Linked DNA regions of Homo sapiens: region 1 is linked to region 2. The links come from fine-mapping of genetic effects on plasma protein levels. A gene starts in region 2. The other region holds a variant in brackets. All regions are shown on one strand. Distances are between the middles of the regions.

Region 1 (10,429 bases), 35 kb before region 2:
GAAATCTGGAAAAAGGCTAATGATAATAGAGCCAAAATACTAGTCTGGAAACGCCTACCTCTAGATTTCATTTATAAGAGAGGAAAATAAATCAGTAACTTGCTTTAGGCAACCAAAGCCAAATCCTACTGTGGTATAAGAAGAAATATGTTTGGTCTTTGTCCCTAGTGCCTGGTATAGAGCTATCGAAAACCCTCTGCATTTCCTGAGTGATAGGAGTGTTCCTTATTATTCATAATGAGCCCCTATTGATTATGCTGATAAGGTAGAATGGTTTAAGAAAAAATTTATTTATTGAGAAGGCCAATTATAGAGATGACTTTATGACTTTAGGCATAGCTGGATGCAGGAACCTAAAGAGACTTCTCCTCATCTCTCTTTAAAACAAAAAAATTAGGGCCAGGCGCTGTGGCTCACACCTGTAATTCCAGCACTTTGGGAGGCCGAGGAGGATGGATCACGAGATCAGGAGTTCAAGACCAGCCTGGCCAACATGGTGAAACCCCGTCTCTACTAAAAATAGAAAAATTAGCCGGGCGTGGTGGCAGTGCCTGGAATCCCAGCTACTCGGAGGGCTGAGGCAGAGAATTGCTTGAACCCGGGAGGCGGAGGTTGCAGTGAGCCGAGATCGTGCCACTGCACTCCAGCCTGGGTGACAGAGCGAGACTCCATGTCAAAAAAAAAAAATTATGTGTGTGTGTGTGTGTATATATATATATAATTGGTAGAGACGGAGTGTCACTATGTTGCCCAGGCTGATTTCAAACTCCCAGGCTCAAGTGATCCTCCTGCCCAAGCCTCACAGAGTGCTGGGATTACAGGTGTGAGTCACCACACCCAGCCTTCTCATCTCTTATTTCTGCTTTCAACTGAAGAGGTAAATGGAGACACAGAGATGCATACCCTAGTACCCTGCTGAATGTGTAGGTGTATGACCCCACTAACCTTACAGAATATCCAAACCTATTGCCAAAGAGATTGGTTCTTTGAGTAGCATGTGACTTAAACTTTGCCTTATGTTGTCTCTCCCTCCTTCTCCCCTTCCAGGATGGGGCTGGTTACCAGAAAGACCAAGTAATTATCGGGTTTGAACTTTCAGCCCTGTCCACTGACATCCAGGAAAGGTGAAGAGGTTGAAAATGAAAGGCAATAAAAACTCTTGAACAATGAGCTTCCAGGTTGATGAAGGTGCTGGGAGGGTGAAGGTAAACCCCAGTACCACAGGACAGAAGCTTCTGCACTCCAGACCCTTCTAGACCTTCCCTCATTGTACCTGTTCACCTCTATCTTTTATAATACCCTTTATAATAAACAAGTAAATGTAAGTAAAGTGTCTCCTTTTGTTCTGTGCGCTGTCCTGGCAAATTATCAAACCTGAGGAGGAGGGTTATGGGAACCCTGATTTACAGCTGGTCAGTGAGAAACACAAATCACAACCTGGAACTTGTGATTGGCATCTGAAGTGGGGCGATATTTTGGGACGAGCCCTTAACCTGTGGGATCTGATGCTATTTCCAAGTAGATAGGGTCAGAAATGAACTACTTGACACCCCACTGGTGTCTGCTGACAATGGCTTGGTGTATGGGGAAAAGCATCTGGCATCAGTACTCTGTGTGAGTGTGCTAAGTGTGTATTTCTCACCCACTAAATCTCAATTTTGATTTTGTGCACCGTTTTCCTTGGCCTCCCCACGAAGATCCAATTTTCCCCATGTCTAACAAGTTAATAAAAATCATCAGGTAGAAAGGACAGATGGAAGGTGTAGAAGTAGGTGGATACAGACCATTTTTACCCTTCCATAGACCTGGATCTCCACCTAGAGCCAGCACCTTACTCTTCTGATGCGAGCCCCTAGCCTCACTCACCCCATCCTTCACAGGGTGCCTGTGAGGGAAGCTTTACCTAAACCCCATGCAGCTGCAGCAGCCATCCGGGCCATCTTGGCTTGGGTCTCATCATTAACCAGGGTCCACTTTTCACAGCACTGCTGGTGGAGTTGACCCCTGAAGAAAATGAATTATATAGTCAGATTAATCCAAATCTCCTTAAACTACCAATCTTCCTCTCCTGCCCCTTGGGTTAGGTGAGGACTACACAGGAACTGGACACCTTTAATAAAAAAGCACATTCTACTAGGTCACATAATAGAGAATCAATGGGCTATTTGTTGTTTCTATGACCCGGTGCTCGTAATTTTTCTGGGTGAGTTTATCAAGGATAGGAACCATGCCTAACTCTGTGATATGAAATGTCCTGAACATCTGGCTCCCTTCATAAATATTAAATAACTTCTCTCCTATGCCAAAGAATTCTGGGCTCTTTCCCTTTGGCAGGCCTACAGAGAAAGCAATCTGAAGAGACGCATCTGGACATTCATTTTGGGCTCAAAGCTATAGGGAGAACTGGCTCCTAAAAGTATTATACCAATGGTTTCAGTCTGAAATGAAACCCAGATGAAATCAATCTGTACAGAAGAAAGGCTCCACAATGGTCACATCTACCAGAAGGCTAGATGCTGCTTATTCTCAGAATTTTGCACAATTGCTGAATGTGAAGGAGGACTATGAGATATTGAGATATAAATGGTGCTTAAGACACCCCAATAAACAAAAGAGAACATGGAAGCCCTAGAATAGGGTCTTGCTATTGACTGTTGAAACTCCCTCTCATGTTTCGCTTCTCAGTGAAAAAAAATAAACTCGGCTATTATGCAAATCCGAGTCCCTGATTTCATGTGAGCTTCAAGATGCAGCTAGGAGACTCCTTAATTTTTCCTGCTTTCTGAAAGACATGCTGCAGGATGATTTAACTTGGCACTGGAGGTGGAGTCATGAGGAAGGGCACAAGTTCTAAGTGGCCCAGGTCAGAAGCCTCATGGAACATGAGCTGCTCTGCGCTCTAAGGTGGTGTAGGAGGGCGGGGATAAAGATGCTGAAGTCAATCCCTGCAGAAGGAATCTAGGCTGAGCTCACCAAGAAGCTGACTGTGGACCACGTCTAGGAGAGGTACTCAGGGCCATTATCCAGCATCGCAGTACAGCAGATATTAACTTTGTTGTCTCTCTGGCACATGATCAAGAAAACCAGGGACACAAGCACTCTGGCTCAATACAGAGCTGAGACCAAAAAGAGGAACTGGTGGCCATGATGCCCTATGCATTTACTGAAGCTCCATTAAGGGAACAGGATAAACCTCTGTGTTGGTTTTCTGCCACCGAGACTTAGAAATCTTCACTCCTGGGCCCTGCTAGGGGTTCCCTTAGAGCAGTAGTTCTCAAACTACTAAGTGCATCAGAATCCCCTGGAAGGCTCCTTCAGATGGCTGGGCTCCACCCTCTGAGTTTCTGACTCAGTAGTGCTGGGATAGGGGCTGAGAATGTGCATTTGTAACAAGTTTCTATGTGACGCCAAAACTGCTGGACCAGGGGTCACAGTTTGAGAACCACTGGCTTAAAGCAGAGGCACAGCTCATCTGCACAGCATATTTTTGTAGGGATCCTGACTAGAGGTAGAAGAGAAAGCTGCATGATCTCCAAATGGTCCTTCCAACCCTATAGTTCAAAATTTACAGCTGGTGAACACAAGCAACTTGGATGAATGCATCCTTCATGCAAGCTGTCCCTCCTAACTCAGCCTCCCTCTATTATTTTTTCAGGATCAGCTGATTCTGTGCCACAGGACCAAGGATGTAGTTTTTCTTTTCATCTAGAGCAGGAAGCAAGTTCAGTGCTGAAATCCCACAAATTGTTACCCCAAGAGACAAAGCAGGGAGCAATGTAGGAACAGCAACTCAGAAGGGCAAGCCCTAGCAGTGAACTTCGCACGGCCTTCACCATGCAGCTGTGTGGGAACAGCTGTCAGAGCTTGGTCAGTACACAGACAAGAGCATTGCTCTTCCACAAACATTTGTTACAAAAAATAATGCAGAATATACCGAGTCCTACCTCTCAAGGGCGGTTGGGTGAGGGGCAAAACCAAATAAATAAAAAACATGAGATTGTTTATGGGGCAACAACTAGGATATGTTTTTCTGATACCTTTCACTACACATAGGGAGGACTGGGTAAAAGGTGCACCCTCTGAGACTTTGATTTTCTCACCTAGCGTTCTGGCAAAAAACGCAGAAAGTGCTTGCTTTGGCAGCACATATACTAAAATTGGAACGATACAGAGAAGAT[A/G]GCATGGTCCCTGAAGATTTAAAACAAATAAAAAGCTTAGGAAGTATTCTTTCATTTGGAATGGCTCCATGGCTCCTCTTAGGGTTGAGGGCCTATGATCTCACTCCCGAGGAATCTGTTCTCAATACCTAGCTGTGTGGGGAACAGTTTGAGGAGGGGGTTCACTTTAGTTCACTTTGGCTGCAGGCGTGGCTGCCTGCACCATAGGGCTGGGCAGGGCAGGGGGTGCGGGTTGCCTAGCTCTCACAGCCTCCTGGAGGCAGATAAGAATGGGGAAATGGGAAGGGTCTCAGCTCACTGTTAACTCCAGATCATTCTTCATGTCACCTCTGATGAACATCTGCCTCAGGCATATTCAGGATATACGCACACAAAAGAAATTTAGAAATTGCACTCTAAACAGAATTGACTGAATAAACCGTATCAGAAACCTGCATATGATCAGGAAAAATATTCTGCTTCTTTCGACTCGTTTTAAAACCTCTTTTAGTCTCCCACATTCTTAAATCCTTTGGTCAGCATTACTAGCCACTTACGCTTTATGGGTAACTATAAAACGGGAAAGAACCCAAGAGGTCAGAGGTATTTGGGACTGAGAACGGCAACATCAGGAGATCGATATCACTCAGCTCGGTTTTCTCAACTTCTGTGAGCCTCAGTTTCTTCAACTATAACACAAAGGAATTGGAGGAAACCACATCTCAAGTCTCTTCCAATGTATCCAATCTGCTCCTACTAACCCAGCTAGGAAAAGTGGTCATCTTTAATGTGAAAGGAGAGGAGTGGAAGGGGAAGGGGCCAGGAGAGGTTTCAAGAGGGAAGAAACAGTGGAGAGGATTTCAAAAGTAGAAAAAGAGGCAGAAGAAGAGGGCAATTCAAAGAATGGAACGAATGAATGTAGGACTTGGAGAAGAGTGAATAATTTGGCCAGAGCTCAGATTATGAGAGAAGGGTTCACAGAGAAATGTGCTGAAGAAGCGGGCTGGTGCCATAATAGGAAAGACTTTGAATGCCAGGCTGTGATATTTATATGTAAATCCAATGGCAACAGTGAAACATTGCAGTATTTTAGGAATTGATTAGAGTTGAATTTTAAGAACACTTCCATCTCGTTTTATCTTTCTCATAACAAGATATGATTGTATGACAGCTGATATGAAACTAGAAAAATTGTTTTTGAAATAATGTGAATAATTCTTATTAACATACTTTTCTTTTGCCTTAGATCAGTGTTGTCCAATAGAGCTTTCTGTGATGATGGAAAAGTTCTCTATGTGCACTGTCCAATACAGCAGCCACTGGCCACATGTGGCTACTGAACACCTAAAATGTGGTATGACTGAGGAACTGAATTTCACATTTTATTTAATTTAAAAATAGCCATAAGGCCGGATGCAGTGGCTCACACCCGTAATCCTAGACCTTTGAGAGGCTGAGGCAGGTGGATTTCTTGAGGTTGGGAGTTCAAGACCAGCCTGGCCAACATGGCGAAACCCCATCTCCATTAAAAATACAAAAATCAGCCGGGAGTGGTGGTGCATGCCTGTAATCCCAGCTACTCAGGAGGCTGGGGCAGGAAAATCACTTGACCCTGGGAGGTGAAGGTTGCAGTGAGCCGAAATCACAGCACTGCACTCCAGCCTGGGTGACAGAGTGAGACTCTGTCTCAAAAAAAAAAAAAAAAAAAAAAAAAAAAAAAAAAAGCCACATGTGGCTAGAGGCTACCATATTGGACAATACAGCTTTAGATACTTGTTGGACTGAGAAAAACAACAACAACAACAACAACAACAACAACAGCTTTAGTTATATAAATAAATAAAGCGGATTTTAAAAGACATGCTTCCTAAATTTATTGAGGTAAATGAACATGGAATTTTTGTTGTTGTTGTTGTTGCCCAGGCTAGTGTCAAACTTCTGGGCTCAAGCAATCCGCCTGCCTCAGCCTCCCAAAGTTTTGGGATTACAGGTGTGAGCCACCACACTCAGCCTTTTAATGTTAATTTATAAAAATAAATAACACTTCCTATAAATAAAAAAATAAAAATAAATAAAAATCTTCCTAATGATGGTTAAATCAGACAAGCCACTTTCAAATAATTGTGGAATATTATCTCTCTCTCTATATATATATATATGATCCAATGCCTAAGGCTAAGTTCACTAACATTAAATTTTCATGCAAAACATTATAACATCTTCTATCTTGGGGATGTAGTAATAACTTTATATTAAGAAATAACAGCCAAACTTGGCAACATAATGAGACCCTATCCCTACAAAAAATAATTTAAAAAAATTAGCCAGGCATGGTGGTGCATTTCTGTAGTTCCTTCTACTCAGGAGGCTGAGGTGGGAGGATTGCTTGAGTCCAGGAGTTCAAGACCACAGTGAGCTGTGATCACACCACTGTACTCCACTGAGAGACAGATTAAAGTCCTGCCTCTTAAAAAAAAAAAAGAAGGCTGTGCACAGTGGCTCACACCTGTAATCCTAGCACTTTGGAAGGCCAAAGAGGGAGGATCGCTTGAACCCCAGGAGTTCAAAACCAGCCTAGACTGCACTGTGAGACTCCGTCTCTACAAAAAATAAAAAAAATTAGCCCACTGTGGTGGTGTGTGCCTGTAGTCTCAGCTACAAGGGAGGCTAAGGTAGTACAGAAAGACTACATGTAGTGAAAGATCATTCTTTTAGAAGACTTGCTTTGATTTTGTCCAATATTCTTAAACTTTCCAAGGCAGGAAATGTCTAAACAAATAAAAATTTGCCTATATTAAATAGACTAGATTTATTGATATGATGAAATATCATGCAGCTATTAAAAAAATGAGGCAGTAGCTCTACAGGTGCTGATATGGAACAGTGGCCTAGACTTGTTAAGTGAAAACAGCAGAGTGCAAAATGGTAAAAACAGCACATTGCCGTCAATGTACATCCCTGTGATGGGGGTCAGGATATACTACCCTGAAATATAGCACACCTTGGCATACTGAATATTTTAAGAAAATGGCAGCAAAAAAAAAATTACTCTGACTCTCCCCTGCCCTTATGCCCTGAAGCAGGTCATAACATCTAGGAAAAATATTTTGACCTTCCCCTGAAGGAGGTCATAAGGCCCTCATGTGAGAGATGCCTTCCCTATACCTGGAGGAAAGGTACATCCTTATTTCTGAAGACAGGGGGTCACAGAGAAGAATCTGAACAAAAAGGCCTACTAAAATCCCCCATACTGTGCTCCTCATTGTACAGGTCCAAGTTAGATATCGTTTCCTCCCGGTATCTTCCAAGGCTGATTAGGGTGCTTCCTATTACCCACAGCCCCCTGGGCTCCTTTGTTGATGGTATCACAATGTATTACGACAGCCTGGTTGTCTGTCCTGTAAGCTCTGGGAAGGCAGGGGCTGTAACTGTCTTGCTCACGGCTGTGTCCCTAGGGCCTGGCACAGACACTAGCAATGAATACACACGTGATAGTTACTGGCTGAATGAAGGAACAGTGGACCCTCAGTATCATGTTCCAGAGAAAGTAGGGATAACCTACTAGTCGGGAGGTAGCATGGAACTTTGTTTTAGTCATTTATTTTTTATTTATTTTTATTTATTTTTTTGAGATAGAGTCTCGCTCTGTCACTCAGGCTGGAGTGCAGTGGTGCAATCTCAGCTCACTGCAACCTCCGCCTCCCGGGTTCAAGTGATCCTCCTGCCTCAGCCTCCCGAGTAGCTGGGATCATAGGCCTGCAACACCACGTCCAACTAATTGTTTATTTTTAGTGGAGACGAGGTTTCGCCATGTTGGCCAGGCTGGTCTCAAACTCCTGACTTCAAATGATCTGCCTGCCTTGGCCTCCCAAAGGGTTGGGATTACAGGTGTGAGCCACTGTGCCCGGCCTGTTTTAGTCATTTAAAACTGCAATTAAACAGTTTAACAATGATAGTATAGCATTTTATTTTAACTATTTTTTAAAAGTTGCACTTGTTGTTGGAAACAGAATGGAGGCCATTTTTTCCCTTCAACATTCCCAAGCAACTCTCCAAACCAAAACCTAGCCAAATGTTCTCAGTTACGCATTACTGTTGCTTGCACCTGGAGTACCTGTTTCCCCCCTACCTTCTCCTTTACCTATCTCCTAACTCTCAGTCCTTCCTCCAGGAAGTACTGCAAAATCACCCTGCTTCCTCCTTTGGGCTTTCAAGGTAGCATGGCTCACACATTATCAACATCCTCTCAGGCTATAATAACCCTCTGTTTACGTGGCTGTCTCATCAACCTCACAGGAAAGGCCTGTTTTCTTGTGTATTTTGTTTCCTTGGAGCCTGGCATAGTGCTGGACACACAGTAAGCATCCGATATAGGTGAAGCACCTGAAGAGGGCAGTCACTGTTCTTCTTTCCTAAAAACATCTGCAAGAGCTAATTTTAAAAATCAAGGTTGCCAAGTAAGAATATGAGCTCTTCACTGGGTCAGTAAAGATCAGGAGAGTAGACAGGAGAAGTAGATCCCAGGAGCACCCCCAAGGCTGTCCTGTCCTAGAGCATTATAAAGTTTAAGTGAAGGCCTTCCTACTTAGCAGCTGAGATAGAATGGAGAGAGAAAAACACCAAAAGTGAAAGATGATTCCTGAGAAGTATCAAGTGGAACAAAATGAGTCTGAAGTGAGAACTCCGTGTGGGGGAAGCCTTCCTTTCAAATCCAAAGATCAAAGAGACGAAGTCTCTTGCAGCCACACATGCCATCATTCTAGGAAGCTCACCATTCCCCCAAGGCCTCGAGGCAGCGCATGCGGCCCAGCATCAGCTCTGGGTCGTCCTTGTTGGTGTCCATTTTCTTGTCATAGGCCACAAGGGCATCCTCCCACTCGTGCAGTTTCTCATACCAGGTAGCCTGGATCTCCTGTTACATGGGAAAGAAAGACTGCTGTGAGGTACACAGAAGAAGGGATCACATTGTTTAATCCACATACTCTCTTTCCTAATGTGCTGCTGTACGCATGACACTTCACCTATCACAGTTACGTCTGGGCTTGGATTAAAAACAACTTCAGACAATCTGGAGGAGTGCTGCTTGGGGAAGGTGGAAATACTGGTTCCTTGGCACATGGATGGAATGATCCTGGGATTATCTGAGAGCAGACGTCAGGCCATACTCCTCCCCCATTATTTCCTTCCCAGACACATGGGTCATCAGAACACACCAGGATGTGCGGACACGAGGACAGGGGAAATCATTTAGGGATAGAAGAAAACGTCGACCAGAGCACCAGAGCTGTTTCAAAGGTGCCATCGCTCCGATCTGCTGGAGTGCTGACACTGGGCTACTTGACAGGGATGGCAGCTGCTTTCCTGATGGGGCCAGAAAGACCAGGCCTCATCTGCATGTTTGCTGGAGGAAAACAACTCACTTTTTAAAACCTCTTGATTCTCTGCATTTCTTAACACATTTTTAAACTTTCAGGAAATAATAATTTAAAATATAACACCACCACTTAAAATTTTTTGGAAAGTCTTTCCCCTATTCTTCTAGAGTCTCCCATCCAATGTTCCCTCCTGCTCAGTGCTTGGCAGGTTTACCAGTGTCAGGGGCCAAAGGAGGGATTGCATTACCCTAGCAGATGGTGTGCCACGCTGAAAGAGGGTGTTGTCCACGTGAGTAGGAGGTGCTACAGTCTGAAAGTTACAGACTATGACTCTCCAAATGATCAGGAGACTGTTTTATATGCTTTCTGTCTGCCCTCCATCTCAGTTTCTCTCCTGGGCTACTTCATCATCAGCTCAATAAATGACTATTTTTGCACAGGCAAGGGTAGTGGCTCTCTAGGGATTTCTTTAACAACAATATGATTCTGCAGTGAAATTTGTATGATATAATGCAGGGCCCACACTAGTTTCTCCCATTACCCTCTTCCCCTTTCTAAATAAAACTGATGTTTGTGCAGTATGTAGACTAACAACTACTCTGCTAAGCTGTCTAAAATAATCTTTTCTTCTTGAACCTCTGAAAAGAGGTCATTTATGCTGGAGATTGTTCCCTTGTACCTACTTTCCCTGGTCTGGTTCTTTCTGGCAGAGCCGGTGCCCTCTGCTGCCCCTAGACTAATTCTGCTGCCATAAAGTCTTTGCCCAACATCAGTGGAGTTTGTCAAAATGAGCGTATCTGGCTCCACGTAAGGCAAACTATCTCAACTTCATTTTTCAAGCCTGTCCAAAATAATATCTATTATGCCTAAATACAAAATAGGAAACTTAGAAAAGAG
Region 2 (10,429 bases):
AGACTACAGGTACACACCACTGTACCTGGCTTCTTTTACCAATCTTTTTATTGTGCTACCTTTTTCCTCCTTATTGTTTGATAAGAGTTCTTTATACACTCTGGGTATAATACATATACAATATTGAAGATAATAGAAATATTTCTTGCCTTTCATTCTCTTCATTGTGTCTTCCAATGAACAGAATGACTACTTTTGTTGCATTTCTTAATATTTTCCTTTATGATTGGTGTTTTTTCTATCTTAAGAAATCTTTGCTTATCTTAGGAAGCCACTTAATCTCCTACGTTATCCTCTATAAATTTTATTGTTTTACTGTTCACACTTAAGAGTTTAAATCTCCTGGACTTGAGCTTTTGTGTGTGGTGTGAGGTAACGATCAACAGTCTTTTCTTTCAGAAAAAGGATCACTGAGGGAAAAAAAAAAATTTTCTTCCCCCATAAGGCTACTGAGCTGACTTAGCAGTCCTTTCCTCACCACTCTGTGGTGCTACCTTGTTATAAATCAAGTGTCTATATCACATGGCTTGAGAGGAAAGGAATAAATACATAAATATAAATACACAAAATTAAGTATCTCTACATATGTGGGTCTGTTTCTGGACATTTAATTCTGTTCCATTTGTTCATCCATGTCACTACTGTACTGCCTTACTTACTGCAGCTTTATGATAAATCTTGATATGTAGTAGTGTAACTCTTCCAAATTTATTTTCCTTATCCAAAAATACCTTGGTTATTTAACCCTTTGCTTTATTTAATTCTCATGAAAAGCCTGTGGTATGAGATAGTTTTGATTTTTATCTCCATTTCACAGGTTGGCAAACTCAGAGAAGTAATATGTCCATGGCCACACAGCAACCAAGTGCTAGGGAGGGATTAGAATCCAGATTTGTCTGCTTCTAGGCCTAAGAACTCAAGTGCTATATGTACTACCTCCTTAATCCTAATGCCAAATGACCCCGTCAGGGTATTTAATATGAATGCATTACAATTTTAAGAAATTCTCACGTTCTAAATCATTCATTTGCGGTGAAAAAATCTTGTTTGGGCTGTGTGTGGTGGCTCAGGCCTATAATCCTAGCACTTCGGGAGGTTGAGATGGGAAGATCTCTTGAGGCTAGGAGTTCCACACCAGCCTCAACATAGTGAGACTCCGTCTCTACAAAAAAATTTAAAAACAGGCAGGCGTGTTGGTGTGCGCTTGTATTCCCAGCTACTTTGGAGGCTCAGGCAGGAGGACTGCTTCAGCTCACGAGTTCCAGGTTTCAGTAAGCTATATGATTGCACTACAGCACTCCAGGGTGGGTAACAGAATGAGACTATGTCTCTAAAAAAAATAAAAAATAAAAAAAAATTGTTTGGCAATTACCAAGGCCACTTTCCTGGTGGAACTCAGGAAAACAATGGAACAAGAGGGAAAAACCTCTAGGATTCCTTCCCATGTCTACAGAGGATCAGTCCCGCTCCTCACCTGGGCTCCCCGGGCACGGCCCCCCTCCACCTCTCCAGCTTTAGCTTCTGCTGCCATTCTTCTTCCCTTTGACTCTTAGGCCACACTCGACTACTTACATTCTCCCACTAGTCCAAGTCTTTCACATAGCTGCACCTTTGCTTACAACATCCTCTCCCATTCCTGGCTATTTCCTCCTTTTTCTTTAAAACCTAGGTATCACTTCTCTAGAAGGCCCTCCTTGTCCTCTGTGTCTCCCATCCTAGCATGTCACACTGTCCAAGAGTTCAGCTGTCTAACTAGACTGCCAGACACTGGGCCAGAATAATCGCTGGATTGTGCAACTTGAGTGGAGGCTAACAGAGCTATAAAGTCCTGACAGAAATCAGAGAGACTTTTTTTTTTTTTTTACTATATTCCATAATTTAAAACTGACTCTGGCCAGGTGTGGTGGCTCATGCCTGTAATCCTAGCACTTTGAGAGGCTGAGGCTGGAGGATCACTTGAGCCCAGGAGTTCGAGACCAGCCCTGGCAACACAGTGAGACCCCCATCACTACAAAAAAAAAAAAAGAAAAGAAAGAAAGAAAGAAAGAAAAAAAGATAGTTGGGTGTGGTGGTGCATACCTGCAGTCCTAGCTACTCGGGAGGCTGAGGTGGATGGATCACTTGAGACTGGGAGGTTGAGGCTGCAATGAGCCATGGTTGCCCCATTGCACTCTAGCCTGAACAGAGTGAAACCCTGTCACAAAACAAAACAGAACAAAACAAAACAGGACTCTAAGAGAAGGCCTGAGAGAAAAGACTTCTAATAGGTTCAGGACACATTCTTTGATAGAAGTGGCAAATTAGAAAGCTCAGGGAAAAGATGGAAATATCTTCTGTGATGGACTTGGACTTTCAGTTGAGACAGGAATGGGATGGAGTGCTAGAAAGGCAGATATGTGGCCGGGCATGATGACTCACACCTGTAATCCCAGCACTTTGGGAGGCCGAGGCGGGTGGATCAACAGATCAGGAGATCGAGACCATCCTGGCTAACATGGTGAAACCCTGCCTGTACTAAAAAATACAAAAAATTAGCTGGGCATGGTGGCAGGTGCCTGTAGTCCCAGCTACTTGGGAGGCTGAGGCAGGAGAATTGGCGTGAACCCGGGAGGCAGAGCTTCCAGTGAGCCAAGATCGTGCCACTGCACTCCAGCCTGGACGACAGAGCAAGACTCCGTCTCAAAAAAAAAAAAAAAAAAAAAAAGGCAGATATTCAACGGCTGTATAGAGTATGGCAGGCTGTGGTTTTTTCAAAGACTTCAGAAGAAGTGAAATATTCCTTTGAGATACACAATTAAAACTAACAGCAAGGCAGCTTCTTCTGAGATGTATTCATTCCACAAGCTGAGAGTGGGCAGCAGTCTCTCCAACGGGGCATTTTCAAGCAAATGGGATCTGATGCTCCTCTCTGGATAGAAGGAGAGACCACCCCTAGGTGCTCCCCTGCCCTGTGACCCTCAGACTACCTTGGTGCCAGCCCAAGGCAGTGCGGCCCAAACACTGTGAAGTCTTTTGAGAACCTCCAGGTTGAGTACAACCTCACTGACTTTTTTCATTAAGAACAAAAGCTTAATTTTCATAAACACCTTTTCCAGGAGCACCAAGCTAGCCCTCTTTCAACACCAGCAAAATGGAGAAAAGGAAAATCTAAACAGTATCCAACCTAGGTTTTCCAGATTTTGTCAGTTAATTCCCATTTTTAAGGTCACTCTGCTCACTGAAAGGCAGAAGAAGGATTTAAAAGCCTCTTTCAGAGAAGGCAATACCATTTTAGTCCTCCACATCCTTCATGGTTTTCTCTACTGGCTTAGCTGTGCTCAAAACAAGGACTTCTTTTTCCTTCATTTAGATATTCAGAATCTAGGACATCATAAGGTTGTGGATGTTTTAGAAAATAGATAATCTTCTGGCATGAGAAATATCCTTAATTAGCTATTTTTCCTCAAAACTGGAGGGGGGGTGAGTATTGACATTTGGGTAGCTTATGCAATTCAAGAGCTTCTGTCTTCTGTCTTCAAGTATTGCCTTATGTTAGAAATAAGTTTCCAGAAAATAAATGTCAAAGACCAGACACTCATGCTAAAGGCTAGATGCTTCCAATACAAACTTACGAACCTCCTCCTACCTTTCCTAAAAGGGACTGTTACATGGGGTACAAATATGAATGATTAATTTATTTTCTGCCCACATATAAGAATCAATTCATAACACTTTCCTGTTTGGGTGAGCTACTGGGAAGAATAAACAAAAGCTGGCTAGAACTCCACAAAGTTCCACTGTTCTTTTGTGCTTTCTCTGCTGCACTGTTACATGAGAGTTCCAAGGCAGCAGGGTCACGTGGGATGCTATACATCAGTGGTCCCCAATCTTTTTGGCACTAGGGACTGGTTTCGTGGAAGACAATTTTTCTATGGACCAGGGTGGGGGTGGGGAGATGGGGGATGGTTTTGAGGTAAAACTGTTCCACCTCAGATCTTCAGGCAGTACTTAGATTCTCACAAGGAGCACGCAACCTAGATCCCTCACATGTGCAGTTCACAACAGGGTTCACACTCCTGTGAGGATCTAATGCTGCCACCGATCTGACAGGAGGCAGAGCTCAGGCGGTAATGCTCACTCACCTGCCACTCACCTCCTGCTGTATGGCCCTATTCCTAACAGGCCATGGACAAGTACAGGTCTGCAGCCTGGGGATTAGGGACCCCTGCTATACATGACTGTATGGTACATAGCACTTCTGTGGCATGTGGTTTAAGCTCAGTGTCATTTGATGGCCAGGAGATCCACTTGAAAATCCCTATTTTTAGCAGACCTTGTAGGATGCCAATATTTGGGGCCAGAGTCTCGTTACTAAAATGAATGCTATGGAGCTAAGGCTGTGGTGCCCAGCTGGGCTAGACATTTGCAAAAAGAGAGCAGACTGGCAGACAGTGCCAATTCTCAACAGAATCTTTTGATTAGAATGCCAAGTTGCTATAAGGGTATCAGTAACATCCTCACCCTTTAGCAGGCAAAGGAGGCTGGGTATGTGAGAAAACAAACTCTGATCCACCTGATCCTCCACTGCTTTTTGATTCTGAGAAAAAAAAAAATTGTTCAGTAACTCCAGCTGCCTGAACAGAAATTACTTTCTGAGGAGCTAGAAGCCCTGACTGGAAAAGAGCTCTGGGGGATTATGGCATGGGAGGAGAGCTGTCAGGCATCAGGCTTATGTGGGAAGGACCCACGCTGACTACAACAGTACAAGTAACTGCCTGAGTGGCTCCATAACATGGAAACAGCAATCGTATGTTCCAAAGACAGAGTTACTGTTTTAAGGACAGAGGAACCTTTGTATAGATTCTTAGTGAAAAGCTTATTTTAAGGATGTTTGCTGAAACTCCATGTTTTTCACATTTCTTTTCAAAAGAGCATTGTCCTTCATATATAGTACATGAAAAATTACAATATTCATGTTTTTTAGATACAAAGTCATATACAAATAGAGGAGGAATAATTTCAAATTGCAAACCATACCAGCAAAGAAAGAGGGAAATGAGACTCTAGATATGGATTTATTAGGTGACAGGGATTCTTTTCTCTATATTTTAATATATTTTCCAAGTTTTGAACCACGGGCTAAGGATGGGCCTGTTCTCTGTCCTGCCTAGAAACTGACAGAAGCATGGGTGACCAATCCCAGACATGCTTGGCACTGCTGAGTTTTCATCTCTGTTGTAATCTTCTGACACCTCCTTGCAAAATATCAAGTGTTATATGCTAATACTGGCCCTCTCTTTGTTGAAGGAGAAAGCATGTAAAAAGACAACTGTCCAAACCCTGTGGCTACAAAGTCTTTTTTTGGCTTCCTAAGAGATTTACTCTATTCTTCTATTTCTAGAACTTTTCTAAGTTGGAAGATTTCAAATGTGAGATAGTGTTAGATCCAGGTTGAGTAAGGATTTTATAAAATACTAAATAATGATCAGAGATGGGAATAATCAGCCTAGATAAAAGCATATTCAGCAGGATGTCAAAATATACCAGATCCTCATATAAACAGCATGGATTACATTAACAGGCCTCCCTGGGTGAGTAGCGTCTCTTTCGCCTACCTTACGCTCACCCCATGGTTATATAACCTTTTGAACGGAATTTGGAAATTCTTCTGACCCTGTCCTGCTTGCTGATAGAGTTGAGCCAGTGGCTGGCAGGGGCATAATCTAATAGGCGAAACTGGAAACACACAAATTCACAGTCCTCTTGTCTTAGCCCAGAGACTGTACAGGCAAGGAAAGAAAGACTCGCCCCATCTCCCTCCTCCCCTCCTCTGGCCTAAGTTGCCGCTGACTTCACCCAACAGGCACCTGACCCTCCCAGATGAGCTGGGAGGGGCTAAAGCCTGGTGCAGCCATGGTAGGGGTGGAGGTACAGGCAGCAAACAATATTTAAGATGCTGACTTGTGGAGCATTCGGGCTTGGAAGGAAAGCTATAGGCTACCCATTCAGCTCCCCTGTCAGAGACTCAAGCTTTGAGAAAGGCTAGCAAAGAGCAAGGAAAGAGAGAAAACAACAAAGTGGCGAGGCCCTCAGAGTGAAAGCGTAAGGTTCAGTCAGCCTGCTGCAGCTTTGCAGACCTCAGCTGGGCATCTCCAGACTCCCCTGAAGGAAGAGCCTTCCTCACCCAAACCCACAAAAGATGCTGAAAAAGCCTCTCTCAGCTGTGACCTGGCTCTGCATTTTCATCGTGGCCTTTGTCAGCCACCCAGCGTGGCTGCAGAAGCTCTCTAAGCACAAGACACCAGCACAGCCACAGCTCAAAGCGGCCAACTGCTGTGAGGAGGTGAAGGAGCTCAAGGCCCAAGTTGCCAACCTTAGCAGCCTGCTGAGTGAACTGAACAAGAAGCAGGAGAGGGACTGGGTCAGCGTGGTCATGCAGGTGATGGAGCTGGAGAGCAACAGCAAGCGCATGGAGTCGCGGCTCACAGATGCTGAGAGCAAGTACTCCGAGATGAACAACCAAATTGACATCATGCAGCTGCAGGCAGCACAGACGGTCACTCAGACCTCCGCAGGTAAGGAGACCAGTCCCCTGAGGGAGCGTGGAGTGCCTCCCCATCTACAGCACTGCTTCTACATATCCTGGTCATCAGAACCACTACTGGGGCCTCTTTTGTGGGTACACTTTCCCTTTAGTAAAGGCTTATGCAGTATTTCCTTTGACTTCTAATGCTATGTAAGTTTACCTAACACCTTCACGGGTCTCTTTTATCCACACAGTGTTTCAGCCTACCATCTTGGAGTGCTGAGATACTACATGGTTTGCCCAAAGTCACCCAGCAAGTCTTAGAAGCAGGGTTCAAGTCTTCCTGATTGGTGTAGCTCTGCTACTTCCTCACCAAGAGCTGACAGGCTATATCTCAAGAAATTCCAAGGAAGCACCAAACTGTAACAGCTGTTCCTCTGGAAGCAAAGTTTTGCCAGAAACAGTTCTCTGGTGTTCCTAAGATTTACCAGGAATGAGCATTAATGGAATTTTGTGTCCTCTCTCTGTAAACGTAACTCTTCTCATTGGCTCAGAGTTAAGTGTAGAGACACATAACCATGTGAAGAGTCCCTTTGTGTTCAGGAAGGATGCGGCTCCTTAAGGTTCCTCAATTGTGATACGTCTATTTTTTTCCATGGTCTTAAATGAATTTCTCCGAATACAGGATTTTTTAAATGCAATGCTGAAATATAGACTTAATAGGCCAAAAATAAGATAAATTTAATCTTTCTTTTGCAAAATAACTTTTATTTCTGGTTAGCTCAGCTCAGGTGGGCCAACATGAATTTACGGTTTAGAGATAAAAATTTGGTTTTCTGAAATTATCAGGAAAATATTAGTTGTAAGGAGCATATCCTATAGACATGTCATTTCTTGCTGATATAAAAACCATTGGTCCCATTATAAACTACATGAAGAACAAAGACATGATCAGCTTCTACTGACTAAGTCAATGGTTAACCTCAGCTCAAATTAAGAAAAAGTTTTAACATGAAACCAAGCTTGAAAATTCTGTTACCTGAACCAACATGTATCAATCACTTTCTAAGCATGGACTTCCGGGCCCTCAGTTTGGGATTAGAAAGGTATTCTCAGGCCATTTTCCAGACAAGTGAGTCCTGATTTGGTCTGTGAGATGAAACCAGACATGCGGAAGACCAGGCCAGACAGAGGAATCTGACCGTGCCACTTCCTGCTCATCCAAACAGGAGGCTTTCTCACCATCCTGCAAGGAGGTTCTTGGGGTCAAGTGCAGCTCTCCCACCAGGTCTCTTGCTCTTCTTGCCCAGGACATCATTCCTTATTTTTCTTCTCTATGACCAAGTGCTCAGTTACCCTTATATTCTATAAGTAGGTAGTCCCTTAGAGGAAGCAGTAAGTTGGTGCTTTCACCACTAAGACGAAATGAAGAATAGTGATGGCGAAGGCACACGTACTCTACCTCCCTTTCCCAAGGTGCTCTGCAAGAGAACCTATGTGCCTCAGACAACTCCCATCTGCCATCTTGGTGCTCCTCTCTAAGGTCCCAGTGCAGTGGTCACCAAGAAAAGCACCCCGAGACATAGCAGGCAGGAAGCTTCTCTTGGATAGTAAGGGCCGCAGTCTCTGAATCCTATCAGAAAAGGCTGTCTCTTCCACTATGCTCTTTGATATTTAGAATACAGAGCTTAAATCCTGCATAAAGTAGCAGCTCCATGGCCCTAGAGTAAAAAAACTGGCCAGTCTGATGCTCTCATTTCATTGTTTTAACAAAACTTCTGGGAGGAAGGCCTCAAAGGTTCTTCTGAGTGTTTTGAGGTGCTAGCTGGATGGAAGGGGAAAATATGTGATAATAAAATCTATCTCCCTTAATTATGGTCTCAGGTGGCAGTAGCCACCATCTCTGAACAACAACAAAAACAACCAACCAGGAAACATCAACAAAACCAGACTCTATGAGATATTCACGACTGATTTGTTATAGTGGCGGCTGTCTAAGAAGTCTGAATCTATCTGACAGGAGTATCTGTTACGTGGCCCTCATACACTGTAACATTTCTAGAATTCATGGCCCAGCTATAGCAGAATAATTTATTTCAGAGTTAACCTGAAACCACCTGTTGGAACGTCCCACTAATGCTATCCAGGTGAAGGGCTTCCCTACCCCTCTGCTCCACCGCTAGTAAAGCCAAAATACACCCCCTCTGGATCTCCCCATATCCACCTCTCCCAAATGCAGACACTGATGGGTAATTAACACCACTGAGAATCCCAGGGTAGAAATAAAGGCTCAGTCTCTAAACACTCAACTCAGATGGAGCCACTGGGTCTAAATGCTCACCCTGTGGTTTGTTCTCTTGTAGATGCCATCTACGACTGCTCTTCCCTCTACCAGAAGAACTACCGCATCTCTGGAGTGTATAAGCTTCCTCCTGATGACTTCCTGGGCAGCCCTGAACTGGAGGTGAGGTCATTACAGTCACTGGCCATGCCCTAATACCTGTCCTTCACCCCCTCAAGGGGACTACAACAACAGGGCCATTCACAGTTTAAAGAAAGGAAAATTCGGCTGGGCGCAGTGGCTCACACCTGTAATCCCAGCACTATGGGAGGCCGAGGCAGGTGGATCACTTCAGGTCAGGAGTTTAAGACCAGCCTGGCCAACATGGTGAAACCCTGTCTCTACTAAAAATACAAAAAAATTAGCCAGGCATGGTGGTGGGCACCTGTAATCCCTGCTACACAGGAGGATTGCTTGAACTCAGGAGGCAGAGGTTGCAGTGAGCCGAGATCACGCCACTGCACTATAATCTGGGAGACAAAGTGAGACTCCATTTCAATTAAAAAAAAAAAAAAAAAAAAGGAAAACTCAAACACAAGCAAACACACCAAACACCACAGAGCTATGCAAACACTCAGTTTATGCCCTGCACTCCAAACCCAGGCATCTGTTTGGCCCCTTCAAATCATTATCAGTCAAACAACAAGCCTTCTAACATAGATCAGATCATTCTTATAACCACCACATAACTTAGTTTAAATCTCTTGCCATGTCCTAGAACAGCTATTCCTTGGGGGAGGAGAAAAGAAAACACGAAGGCAGCATCAAATTATCTGGATTTTCACCCAGGCATGGTGGCTCACACCTGTAATCCCAAGTTTTTTGGGAGGTGAGGTGGGCGGAACAATCACCTGAGGTCAGGACTTTGAGACCAGCCTGGCCAACATGCTGAAACCCAGTCTCTACTAAAAATACAAAAATTAGCCCAGTGTGGTGACAGGCACTCTGGTCCCAGCTACTAGGAAGGCAGGAGAATCACTGGAACTCAGGAGGTGGAGGTTGCAGTGAGCCGAGATTGCACCACTGTACTCTAGCCTGGGCAACAAGAGTGAAATTCTGCTTCAAAAAAAAAAAAAGTATCTGGATTTTTCCCTCCAAGCTTCATGTGCACTCACCCCCGGGCCCAATTTGCATCGTTCTTCCAGAGCAATGCACCACCCACCCCAGCTCACCAGCAGTGGGGCAGCATCACTGCCCGAGTGAGCCAGTGTGACTGCGGGAGTGCACACATCTACTGGCTCTGCAGGGACAGGAACAGGTTGGGAAGCCTGCCCTCTTGCTCCTGCCTTCTGCCCCTGCAAGTCCCTCACCAGAGTATCCCCTCTGCTTCAGGTGTTCTGTGACATGGAGACTTCAGGCGGAGGCTGGACCATCATCCAGAGACGAAAAAGTGGCCTTGTCTCCTTCTACCGGGACTGGAAGCAGTACAAGCAGGGCTTTGGCAGCATCCGTGGGGACTTCTGGCTGGGGAACGAACACATCCACCGGCTCTCCAGACAGCCAACCCGGCTGCGTGTAGAGATGGAGGTAAGCACAAGGCCAGGGGCCCCATGACTGGACCAGTGCCACCACACATGACCGCG

Direction of the effects. Positions count from the first base shown, and alleles are read on the strand shown. Strength reflects both the effect of a copy and how common the allele is.
As copies of G replace A in region 1, the plasma level of the protein whose gene starts at base 5,954 in region 2 goes down (strong association).

What was found. A credible set is the group of variants that fine-mapping cannot tell apart. PIP is the chance, under the fine-mapping model, that this variant and not a neighbour inherited with it causes the effect. Protein levels are from antibody-based Olink assays in UK Biobank. Linkage for the fine-mapping came from a reference panel and not from the study's own genotypes, which makes the PIPs less certain.
Region 1: its variant is the best candidate, but not a certain one, in a credible set for the plasma level of the ANGPTL7 protein (UK Biobank, PIP 0.61).

Annotation. Positions count from the first base shown.
Region 1 is chr1:11,148,223-11,158,651 of GRCh38, forward strand. MTOR (mechanistic target of rapamycin kinase) reads right to left here. Exons shown (of 58, transcript NM_004958.4): 30 at 8,930-9,069; 31 at 1,904-2,004. It overlaps MTOR-AS1 (MTOR antisense RNA 1), which reads left to right. Exons shown (of 4, transcript NR_046600.1): 4 at 1,048-1,316. It also overlaps the pseudogene RNU6-537P. Among named protein-coding and RNA genes, the nearest start is that of MTOR-AS1, 9.5 kb to the left of the region's middle. The variant A/G (reference allele first, on the strand shown) is at 4,179.
Region 2 is chr1:11,183,402-11,193,830 of GRCh38, forward strand. It overlaps ANGPTL7 (angiopoietin like 7), which reads left to right and starts at 5,954. Exons shown (of 5, transcript NM_021146.4): 1 at 5,954-6,554; 2 at 8,869-8,969; 3 at 10,179-10,373. The coding sequence starts at 6,179. All of the region lies in intron 28 of MTOR (mechanistic target of rapamycin kinase), which reads right to left. RefSeq lists an enhancer at 6,307-6,807.